Linked DNA regions of Homo sapiens. The protein of the gene in region 2 interacts with the protein of the main gene of each other region in a biochemical or structural test. Each region holds a gene or a part of one and is shown on either strand. Other genes may lie near its edges.

Region 1 (3,753 bases), on a different chromosome or scaffold from region 2:
GTGTAATTGTCTATGCACATGTCTGTTTCTCCCGGAAACTATAAACCCAAGGGTAGAGGCTATGATTCATCTGTTTATTCAGAACCTATGACAATGCCTGATGCATAATATGTATTTAGCAAATGAATGAACTTTAAATGGCAATAAAATATTACTTTTCATATAATACTTACATAAGACATTTATGCAAAACATTGTTAATATAAGGCAGTGCTTCTCAACTTTGCATATCAGAATCACCTATAAACCTTTCAAAATAGAGATGCCAAGGCAACTCTTTACATCTTCACAAGTAATTCAAGTGCATAGCCGAAATTAAAACCACTGCTACACACAATCATAGTCATAAAATTACAAACTACTCTACCTAACATCTATATAGCTCAGTATCTTACAATTCACTTTTACATATATTATTAATCTTCACAAGAATTCTGTAAGTTAGGTATTATTTCTTTCAAATGAACAAATAGAGATTTAAATAAGTGTCCAAGTAGCTCTTTGTCTAACTTCAAATTTTGTGCTCTTCCTTAAACCCTCCCTTGGTAAGTGCAGTAATACACAAATCAAGGGTTCCACCAGTGAGGAAGACATCAATCTTAGCTTTGTGGGAATCCAGGAGGAAATAAGGAAAGCTGGACCTTAAAGATATAGGCAGGCAGATGAGGGTGGAAGCCATGCATATACTGTCATTGTCATTTGCCATCCCAAAAGATTCAAAAGGCAGATTCTATAAATTAGAAAATGCTCTTGCCAGCCTCAGTTAGTACTTAACAGTCTGAAAGGGAAAGGGATATTGGAGAAGGCTGGAAGTAGAAAAGTAATAAAAGAAAGCAGCCCATAAACAAGAATGGATTTCCCAATCCTGCATGCAAATTACCTAACTCTGACTCCAGGAACAAAAGCCAAGACATAATGGACTTAAGAATTAGATGAATTCTACAGTCAATCAATACCACGAAAACTCATGAGGGATGAATGAACCTCTGGTTCTTTCTAGACTTACTACTACACTATTCCTCAAGAAGGGATAATCCGGAGAAGCCTAGCATATACATGACTTTCCCCATCTCAAAAACTAAAAGAATGGGAGAGAAGAGGAAGATATTCATGAAAGAAAAGGCTTACAAAAAGGGTAGAAAAATGTAGCACATTAAGTTAATAAATTTACGATGGCACAGGGAAATATTCAGGCACAAGTGATTCCAAATACTGGATAAAGCCTGATCTGGCAGCTTCAGTAAAGAGGTATTATCTTCTAAGTCTGCAACATCATGACCATCTGACATAGAGTTTTATCAGCAATTATCCTTTCTAGTTCAAACTGTGGACTTCAGTCAGGGTTTTCTTAGGGAGAAGAAGCTAAAGAGATTAGGAACCAATTTAAAAGAATGTGTCTAGTGCCCCAAAATTTAGTTTGATAGAGTTTAAAAGGCAATATGTTATAGTGGCAAAGTAAAGTACTACACTTAGAATTTTAAAATGTGGTTTAAAATCAATATTCAGGCATTCATTAATGATGTGCCTCTGAGCAAGCCAAGACTTCTATTAATATGATCCTCAGCCTGCTAACTCGTAAAATGGGAATACCTATCTCATAGGGCTGTTACGAAGATTGAACAAAATAACATCCAGGAAAGATGTTATTTTTCCTGTATGAATGATAAATGTAAACGAATGTAAATCTGTCTTCACCAAGCCTTCTAATACACACACAAAAAAAACATACCAAATGGAAACTTTAACTCTCACTGCAATATATTTACTTGCAAAACATTCCTATATCCTCTGTGCAGAAACATTAAAAGCAGCCTCTGTACTGAAAATAGCACATAGCTGCTGGAGTCAGGTGCACATGGACTAGAATTGTTGGTCTGCCACTTACTTGCAGCAAAACCTTAAATAAGCTCCCTTTACTAGTATGACTCTCAGGTTTCCTCACCTATGATACAGAGATACCAGCAATCATCTCATAAGGTTATTCTGAGGGTTAAAAAGAACATGTTAAACATCTCATATAGGGCCTGGTACAGAACAGGTATTCAGTAACATAAGCCATTTTTAGTAAGCTTACCACCACCTAACAACTAACAAGCAAATTATACTTTTCAAAGATTCCTTTATAGTCATTATTTTAATTGCTTCATGATCCTGTAAACTAGTCGTAGCAACTATTACTATCCCCATTTTACAGTTGGGACAAAACACAGAGATAAAAATTACTTCTACAAGGTCATGCAGTAACATAGACACTAAAGAAGGTCTCCTAACTTTTCCAGGGTTTCATTTTCACCCACTACAAATTACAACATTACCCCTTAGAAATTAAAACATCTGTGAAGAGACTTTTTTTTTTTTTTTAATAATGGGCATAGAAAATGACCCAGAAGGAGCAAACACTGGTGTGGGAGAATGTTTTTAAATTTTTTATTTTCAAGTTTGAATATACTGACTATTAATTTTGAATCAATGCATTTTTCCTTTTATTTTTAGTTGATATGTAATAATTGTACATATTTATGATATTTTGAGATGTATATAATTCGTAATAATCAAATCAGGATAATTAGCATATTCATCACTCCAAACATTTATCATTTCTTTATCATAAACAGTCAAAAGCCTCGTTTTTAGATGCATATTGTTTATCGCTTTTCAAAAATAAACAATAAACTGTAGTGAGATGTATTCTTTTGATAACCTTAAACTTGTCTCTTTACTATGCCAAAAAGAAATATTTTTCTCCCACTTTCTGGTTATTATTTAGAAAAATAACATGGAGAGGGATCAGAAAATTCATTAAAACCAGCAACAACAGAATTAATGTCTCAAATTGGCAACTGCTGATTCCACCTTGATTTTTGTTTTAGTTTTCCCCAACAAAGCCCATGACCTCTTAAAATTTTTTAAAAGTCTGCCTGTCAAAATGATGCTTGTTTGACAAATTATTCCTAAACTGAGGGAAACAAATAGAAAGGCAGCTTTCTCCCCCCCTTTATGATCATATACCACCTTTTTTCATCCCTCTATTTCATCTCTTCATTTCAGCACTTATCATGTCATATTATCTCTAGCTCCTTAAAGACTTGGGCTGCACTCTTGTATATAGCTGAACATCCTGCCCAGCACAGGGTCTGGCACATGGTGGAGAAGGACTCATAATTTTATAGTAAACGGATGAATAATTGAAGCCACTCTCCCAGAAGGAAGCTAGGAAAGGAGAAAACTGGGCATGGTATCTTAGGGCTAATAAGAAAGTGAAAGAAACAAAGCATTTTAAGAGCTTGACAAGGAAGAGAAACCTTTGTGTGGAGTCAAACAGGCCCTATATAGCTTTAAGTATCACCAGAGAAAGACAAAAACCACAGGAGACCAGGAAGAGACAGTTTTAAGTTAAAAGACTCAAAAGTTAAGAGTGCTTATTTAGACTTGCAAAACCAACTTGCAAATTCAAAAGAAACAATCCTGGCTTGGAATATTGCAACAGCAGTTTTCAGGTGGTGGTTAAAACAAACAAACGAACAAAAGACTAGGCTAAAAATTCTTGCAGGCTTTGGTTGGAGACACATAAAGGGAAAAGCTCAACCTAAAATGAATCCCCCAAAAATGTTAGGATCCCCTTGGATTTGCACATTGGACCATGATTCCTATTCATTCTGAGAACGGTTCTTGAGTAAAACCCCAATGTCGCAGCTGGCAATACATAGAATTAAATCATCTTACATTATTCATTCAACAAATACTTGAGTGCCT
Region 2 (3,753 bases):
GGCGGATCACCTGAGGTCAGGAGTTGGAGACCAGCCTGACCAAAGTGGAGAAACCCCCGTCTCTACTAAAAATACAAAATTTGTAATCCCAGCACTTGGGGAGGCCAAGGCGGGCGGATCACAAGCTCAGGAGATCAAGACCATCCTGGCTAACATGGTGAAACCCCGTCTCTACTAAAAATATAAAAAATTAGTCAGGTGTGGTGGCGGGCGCCTGTAGTCCCAGCTACTTGGGAGGCTGAGGCAGGAGAATGGCGTGAACCCAGGAGGTGAAGCTTGCAGTGAGCCAAGATCGCACCATTGCACTCCAGCCTGGGCGACAGAGCAAGACTCCGTCTCAAAAAAAATAAAATACAAAACAAAATTAGCCAGGCATGGTAGCACATGCCTGTAGTCCCAGCTACTTGAGAGACTAGGGCGGGAAAGTCACTTGAACCTGGGAAGCGGAGGTTGCAGTGAGCCAAGATCACACCATTGCACTCCAGCCTGGGCAACAAGAGCGAAACTCTGTCTCAAACAACAACAACAACAACAACAACTTTTAGCCTAGAGAGAAAATGAAACAACTGGCATGACGCACTGGGGTCCTGGCTGACCCCAACATGGAGGCTCAGCATCTCAGCGAACCCGCTGCACAGCCTGAGTCTCAGGACACACACAGGGCTCAGGACTCGCTGTGACACTGACAGGTCACTTAGGCTCCCACTCACACCACCAATGCTGGTACAAGCAGGCAAATAAATACAGGTGATCTACACAAGGGAAGATGCTGGACTTGAGCGTTACTCTGACAAGACTTGATTCTGTGCATAGCAACTGAAGATGAGTATGCAGAACTTAGCAAAGATTTTCAAGAGAAAATAATGTAAGGATTACGTAATTCGGGAAATAAAAACCTGAAGGGCAATTTCAACTAAGAATGGCGACTACCTGCTCACCATCTTTTGGAGAACGAAGAAGAAATGAATGGTCTGAACAGACTTAGCCCGACAGAGCTGCCCAATAGAGAGGATGCCAATGTTAAATGACCACAAGAAATGTAACATCTCTTTTTAGGACACCCTAGATAAGAAATCTTCCAACTGGTCCTTCAGGAGAGTGTCTAAGCAGTCTTGGATGAGCTACATCAACAGGTCTGCAGACCACAGAGCCAGCAATCAGGGACCACATTCCATGTAGTACAAAATTTAGAGGTTTCCCCTTTATCAACAAGAGACCCAGGTGCCAGCATGTTACTACCAGATCCAGTTCTTCTTAGGACAGTGTGGCTCAAAGGGATGAGACCTTCCAGACACTGGTATCTGAGCATCTGTGGCCTGCCCCTGAGTTGTCAAGATAATTTCCTTATCTCTGAAGGAGTCCAGACAGGAATGCTTCCACTGCTGGGTGGGTGCTCGCCCCTCTTGCTCCTTAAGCGCCCGGCTCACCCCCTTGCTAGCACAGGGTGTCTTACACAGTTTATGGGACTTTTCTGTGAACTACCTGAGGGCAAGAACCATGTCCCACTCCCTCCTTGCTCCTCAAATATTTTATAGGAAAGCAGTCCACAGTCTCACACAGAGGAAACATGAAGTTTAAGTTCTAGCCCTATGAGGACAACACCTACTTTGATACCAGGCGTCACACTCTACAGCTTTGTTCAAGCTGAGGAGAGTTCTCTTTCCTTATCTGTGTGTTCCTCAGAACACAAAGTGGGACTCCTGCCAAGTCACCCTTGACTTACTGTGAGGCCTTCCTTAGAGAGGCCTCACCCTGCCCGGTACCCCCTGAGTCACAGCAGGGTGGCTCTTGTTTCTCAGAATGACACCACACCCTTCCACATGTGTCCAGTGGGCTGAAGTCTCCTACTCTACCAGCCAGTATGTTTTTAAATCCATTTACAATCTGAATTATTAAACATCCACTGGGTATAGAAGAGTTTCCTAAGATACTGAAGAATTTGAATTGTCTGGGGATTATAGACTGATTTTTAATACAGCAGACTTAACCACTAAGTTATTTCACCCATATTACCCCCTACAACGAAGTACTGGTTGAATCAATCACAGGCTGCCTCATCATCAATCAGGGCTCAAAGCCAGCCTTTCTCTAGGATGTCTTCCTGACCTCAACCCAACCCCAACCCCAATCCCTCCGGCCAACCCAGGTGTGCTGAGCACCACACAACTTCCACTCATTTGGGCACAACGTGGAAAGCAGCACTCTTTAGGCCGACCCACCCGCACACTGAGGAACAGGAGAATTCTGACAGCGGCTGGCCCCACAGTGTGTGCTATGTGCCCAGGACTGTTATGCGTGCGTGACACGTACTCATCTCACCCTACAAGGAAACAGGCAAAGACTGGAGAGAGGATGAAGCCTGCCTGAAGTCACAGAGCTAGGACATGCACACAGGTTATCAACCCAAGGAATCTCAAGCATATTTAACTTTTGCTTCCAAAGATACTTTTAAAAATGAAGAACAAACATGTAACAAGATAAGCAAATGATACACAAGTAAAACCGCTGCTTAAAGAAAAGTAACTTTTAATGACAACAATGTCTTCTAAGTACCCATTTTCACCAGCTACTGCTCTAATTAGCTTTGGTAAATAAATCACTTAGTTGTCTGATACAGAAGCAAAAGTAAACTTTTTTTTCTGATTAGACACAGTGGATACATTTTACAAAACCAAAACTTCAATCTACATTGAATAAATTTAGGTTCTATTGTATGGTTCACAAAATCCATACAAATTATGTATTTTGTGGGAAAAAATGTATTAAACCTGTGAGATTAGTTACTAACTTGGTTTAAAGAAACCTGAATCTTAACTGCCTAATTTGATTCTGTGGTACAAAAATGTCACACAGCAAACCTGCCTTCAAACTAATTGGTGTTAAAAACTGGTTTGCAAAAACAAAAAGTAGCTCTTTCATACGGTTATTCTAAAGCTAAATGGAAGACTGTAAAATGCCCAACAATGGAACAGCTGGTAACGCTCAAAACACAAAACCCCTGGGCTTGCATCTAGGGGGATGTTTACATGGAACCAATCCCACCCTGTTTGCTATTTACTCAATACCCAAATGATGGCAATATAAGCAAGTCCATAGGTAACATGCACTAATTAAGCGCTCGAGAATTATATACTCTAAAAGACACATTAAAAGTCAGCTGCAATCCTTACTGTTTGCGGATAGGATAGGGGGCGTAATCTGTCATAATCTTCTTGTCCAGCTGTATCCCATAAGCCCAGATTCACCGGTTTTCCATCTACCATAACATTGGCAGAATAATTGTCAAAGCTGTAGAATGGAATGAAAATGGTTAGTCACAGGTGTAGAAGCTAAGTCACTGTCCCAGCCATCCTAGAGAAGGTGTGCCAAGAAAAAGGCTGGGGACGGGCCTGGAGGCTGCCACACCAGCAAATGTCCCTGCAGGCACAAGGAGGAAGGCGGCACGGGCAAAACTTGCGGGAAACAAACCAAACCCAACCCAAAACTTAAGAGAAATGAAAGAAACAAACAACAAGCTATTTAAGTGAAACAAATCACCGTCAGAAATAAAAACATTTTACTTTAAACAAAGTTTAAGACTTTTATCCCCAGAAGAAATAAGGGTACAATTAGCCCCGCTTTCAAATCCTACTTGTTGGGTTTTTCATGTACTTATGTTGCTCATTTTCAGCAAGAGAGCTAGCTGGCCACTAGAGCTACCCTCTGCAGGGTTTCCAGAAGGCCTGAGTGTAGAGCAGTCACACAAAATACACC
Region 3 (3,753 bases), on a different chromosome or scaffold from region 2:
TTACTCCCATCAAAATGTTGCATATTTTTTCAAGCTTTCTCAAGGTAACTTAAAATCTGCCTCCTCTGAAATTTCCCCTGACTACAGATGCCAGAGCCAGCTCTTCCTCCCTTAAACTCCTAAAGATCCAGGTTATGTTGTAGTTACTATTTTATACATATGTTTATTATCTCCCCAGCCAGACTGAATTAGAATCCTCTTAGAGAAGGGAAGTAAGTTTTCTATCTCCAAAACAACTACCATTTATTGAGCATATATCACAGTCATTCCTGACAATTTATTCTGGACAATAGTTCTATGAGGCTGCTGTCATTATCTCCATTTTGTAGATGAAGAAACCAAGGGCTCAAGGATATTAGGAAACGTGCCCAAAGTTCACATAGCTGGTAAGGAGCAAAACAAGCTTTCCTCCAGCTAGCTTCATGTAACATGAGATGTATGGAATGAACAGGTACACATCTGGTAGGGGAAAGGTGGTCAGGTCAAATAAGTTAGGAGGATTAACAAAGCTAAATCACTATTTTTACTGAAGGGCTTCTCAAAGCCTTTTAACATGCTGCCAATGTGATTTATAAATTTCCAAAGGGCATATGTTATGTAATTTCCCAAATGTATTTGGGGGCTAAAATCCTTTTCAAAAGGACAATCAGCCTTATAGAACTAAAGAGTTTCATTAAGCTCCTTTCAGGAAATGTGGCAATGTGTTCTGTTGTTTTTGTACAGACCTCTGTACATAGTAGGCACTCAGTACATATTTCTTGAAGAAAACTTACTCCTCATATTAAAGTAACATGCAATCATTCCTCTTACAACAGAATGTCTGAAGTGTAATAATTATTCCACTAAACAGTATTAGAATTTTAGAAATTAATTTCATTAGATAGAATAAAAAGATGAAGAAAAATTTCTACCTGTGCTTTTATGATATGCATGAATCTTGACATCAACTCAGGACATTCAAGGAGAAAGTGAAAGTGGTCAAATATAATTTTGGGATTTCTAAAAGAAAAATATTTTGTTTAAATGGACAGGAAGAATGAGTAGCATTAAGTGAAATGCAAATTCAGATACACTGACACTGAAACAGAAGAAAAACACATAATAATCCATATCTATTAAAGTTTCATTTGTTATTGAGCATATTTTGAATAGTACGAGAAATAGTATTTTTTCTGTTTAGATGAAACTGTAAGTAAAGAGAGGAAAGGCTAGCAGGGTACTCCACAAACCCAGAAAGCTTACCTATTAACAAAGCATTTTAAAACTTCATCATGTTTGCAGACAAATTCAATGAAACGAGGTGAAGTCATTCTGTGGGGGGAAAACATCAATCAGAATACACAGGCAAAAGTTTGTGATATAATATAGCGAACTTGATAAATATATACTGAACTGGACTGGCTTCTAAACCAAAAAAAAAAGAATTTGGTTTTGAATCTTCTTTGTAAGTTTAGGAAACTGAAGTATGCCTAGCCAATTTGTAAAATGATTCTAACTTCTCATCAGCAGACGATATCAACAAGTGACTTTTTAAAAATCTTGAAATTTGGTGCATTTCTGCTCTACACATTTCAAATACATAATTAAGAGATCCTATACAAGGTGACATTCACCATTCTACAAAGTAATAATATATACTGCTTAATATTTAAATATTCCCTACTAGATCTAGATTAGTATGAGTATCTTAAAACAAGGAGAAAACTTTAAATCAACAAATTATTATTTGTTGTTTTTGAAATTACAAAAGTATCACTGCTTTTCATCATCTATCAGAGAAAAAAAAAATAATAAGCCAAAACTTTCTTACCCCGGAGGCATCTGACAAGAACAGCACATGTAAAAAGCTTGAATGACAGCACTTAGCCGGTTAGCTGTCATAGAAATAACATCCTGACAATCTGCACTGGCTTCCTGTCTCCCTGCAAGAGCATCTGGTTTAGATTCCCTTGTGCCAGTGGACAGATTTTCATAGCTCCCAGGTCCTGGAGGTTCAAATGGAGGAATGGAAGCAGCATCTTGATCTTGGCCTTTTTGTTTCAGTAAAATAGAAGTGATCTCTGTTGAGTCTCTTTTGTTTTTCATCAATTCTGTGGCTATTAAAACTAGCCATTCATCTAACGAGTGCCAAAGCAATTCCAGAGGCTGAGAGAAACAAAAGTGTTTTTTAAACATCATTCTTAAACTACAGGATTAAAAAAAAAAAAACAAAACACAACTAGACAAATATTATAGAAGAGAAAATTTACTCTAGTCATTTCTATCTTCCCAAGTTAACGTGATAGTAATGCCTAAAGGTAAGTAATAAAATTATACAAATGCTACATAAATGACAATTTCTTCATTTATGGCAATAATTTAATTTGTATGTATGTATTCCTTGTAATAAAAAGGAAAAACTAAATCTAACAAAAAATTCACAATCTTTCTTCTTTTAATTTTCAAATGTTTAGTTTTAAAAGCACACATTACTACTATATATAATCACCCTTAACATTTACTGTATTAATATGATCAATGTCAACCACTTTCAATTAAACAAATAAGATTTTTTCAGTTAAAAAATGAGAACCCCTAAGTATAATCACTCAACATTTTCTGTATTAATATGATCAATGTCAACAACTTTCAATTAAACAAATGTCTTTTTTCAATTAAAAAATGAGAATCCCTAAAGAACCTAATGAACAGCTTTTTTACTGTGCTCCTTTCATTACATATAATTCCTAGAATTTGGATAATTTTTGACAAGAAATTACAAAATGTGGCATATTTATGTATATACATATACTTACAGACACAATCCATTTCTAATAATTAGTGTTTTTTTAAAACAAGAGATACAATTACCAAACTTCTATTAAAATACTGACTAGCAGGCCGGAGATGGTGGCTCACGCCTGTAATCCCAGCACTTTGGGAGGCCGAGGTGGGTAGATCACTTGAGGTCAGGAATTCGAGATCAGCCTGGCCAACATGGTGAATTGAAATCCCATCTCTACTAAAAATACAAAAAATTAGCCAGACATGGTGGCACACACCTATAATTCCAGCTACTCGGGAGGCTGAGGCAGGACGATCACTTGAACCCAGGAGGCAGAGGTTGCAGTGAGCTAAGATCACACCACTGCACTCCAGCCTGGGTGACAGGGCGAGACTCCATCTCAAAAAAAAAAAAAAAAATACTGAGTAGCAAATTCTTAATTCCAAGTAAAGATTAACACCTTTCTATTAAAAAAAAAAAAGATGAGGAGAGAATAAACTATTTCCTATTATTATTCTAGCTGGGTACACAGGCATGCACTTGTAGTCCCAGTTACTGAGGAGGTTGAAGGGGGAGGATTGCTTGAGTCTCGGAAGTCAAGGCTACAGTGAGCTGTGATCATGTCACTATACTCCAGCCTGGGTGAAAGAGTGAGATACTGTCTCCAAAAAAAAAAAAAAAACAAACAAACAAACAAAAAAAAAAACCTGCTAGGATATTTTTAATCCCAAATAAAGATTAATAGTTTATAAGTGGTACAGTGGTTAAACAATCCCTTCATCCTACACTATTTTAAATATTCTTATTGAGAATGATTAGCTATCCTTCTGCAAATAAATATAAAAGTTTATCTCACTTTTTGAATCTGACATGATTACAGAATGCTACAAACTACACCATGTGCTACAGAAAGACTCACCTTTAAAATATTTCAAGGAAAGAAATAATCTTTCTTTTAAAGACCGCCATGGAAGGAGATTATACAACCA

The links.
Region 1: the proteins of RAC1 (region 2) and PAK1 form a complex in vitro, tested with the Homo sapiens proteins (17 studies listed by BioGRID and IntAct).
Region 3: of the proteins of RAC1 (region 2) and HACE1, one has a biochemical effect on the other in vitro, tested with the Homo sapiens proteins (5 studies listed by BioGRID and IntAct, with this or other methods).

What each region holds. Positions count from the first base shown.
Region 1 is NC_000011.10:77,467,342-77,471,094, forward strand, and holds part of PAK1 (serine/threonine-protein kinase PAK 1), read right to left. Parts: intron 1-3,753. UniProt on the Homo sapiens protein: Protein kinase involved in intracellular signaling pathways downstream of integrins and receptor-type kinases that plays an important role in cytoskeleton dynamics, in cell adhesion, migration, proliferation, apoptosis, mitosis, and in vesicle-mediated transport processes.
Region 2 is NC_000007.14:6,391,459-6,395,211, reverse strand, and holds part of RAC1 (ras-related C3 botulinum toxin substrate 1), read right to left. Parts: intron 3,289-3,753; coding exon 3,171-3,288; intron 1-3,170. UniProt on the Homo sapiens protein: Plasma membrane-associated small GTPase which cycles between active GTP-bound and inactive GDP-bound states.
Region 3 is NC_000006.12:104,783,175-104,786,927, forward strand, and holds part of HACE1 (E3 ubiquitin-protein ligase HACE1), read right to left. Parts: intron 2,146-3,753; coding exon 1,811-2,145; intron 1,312-1,810; coding exon 1,243-1,311; intron 1,000-1,242; coding exon 912-999; intron 1-911. UniProt on the Homo sapiens protein: E3 ubiquitin-protein ligase involved in Golgi membrane fusion and regulation of small GTPases. Acts as a regulator of Golgi membrane dynamics during the cell cycle: recruited to Golgi membrane by Rab proteins and regulates postmitotic Golgi membrane fusion.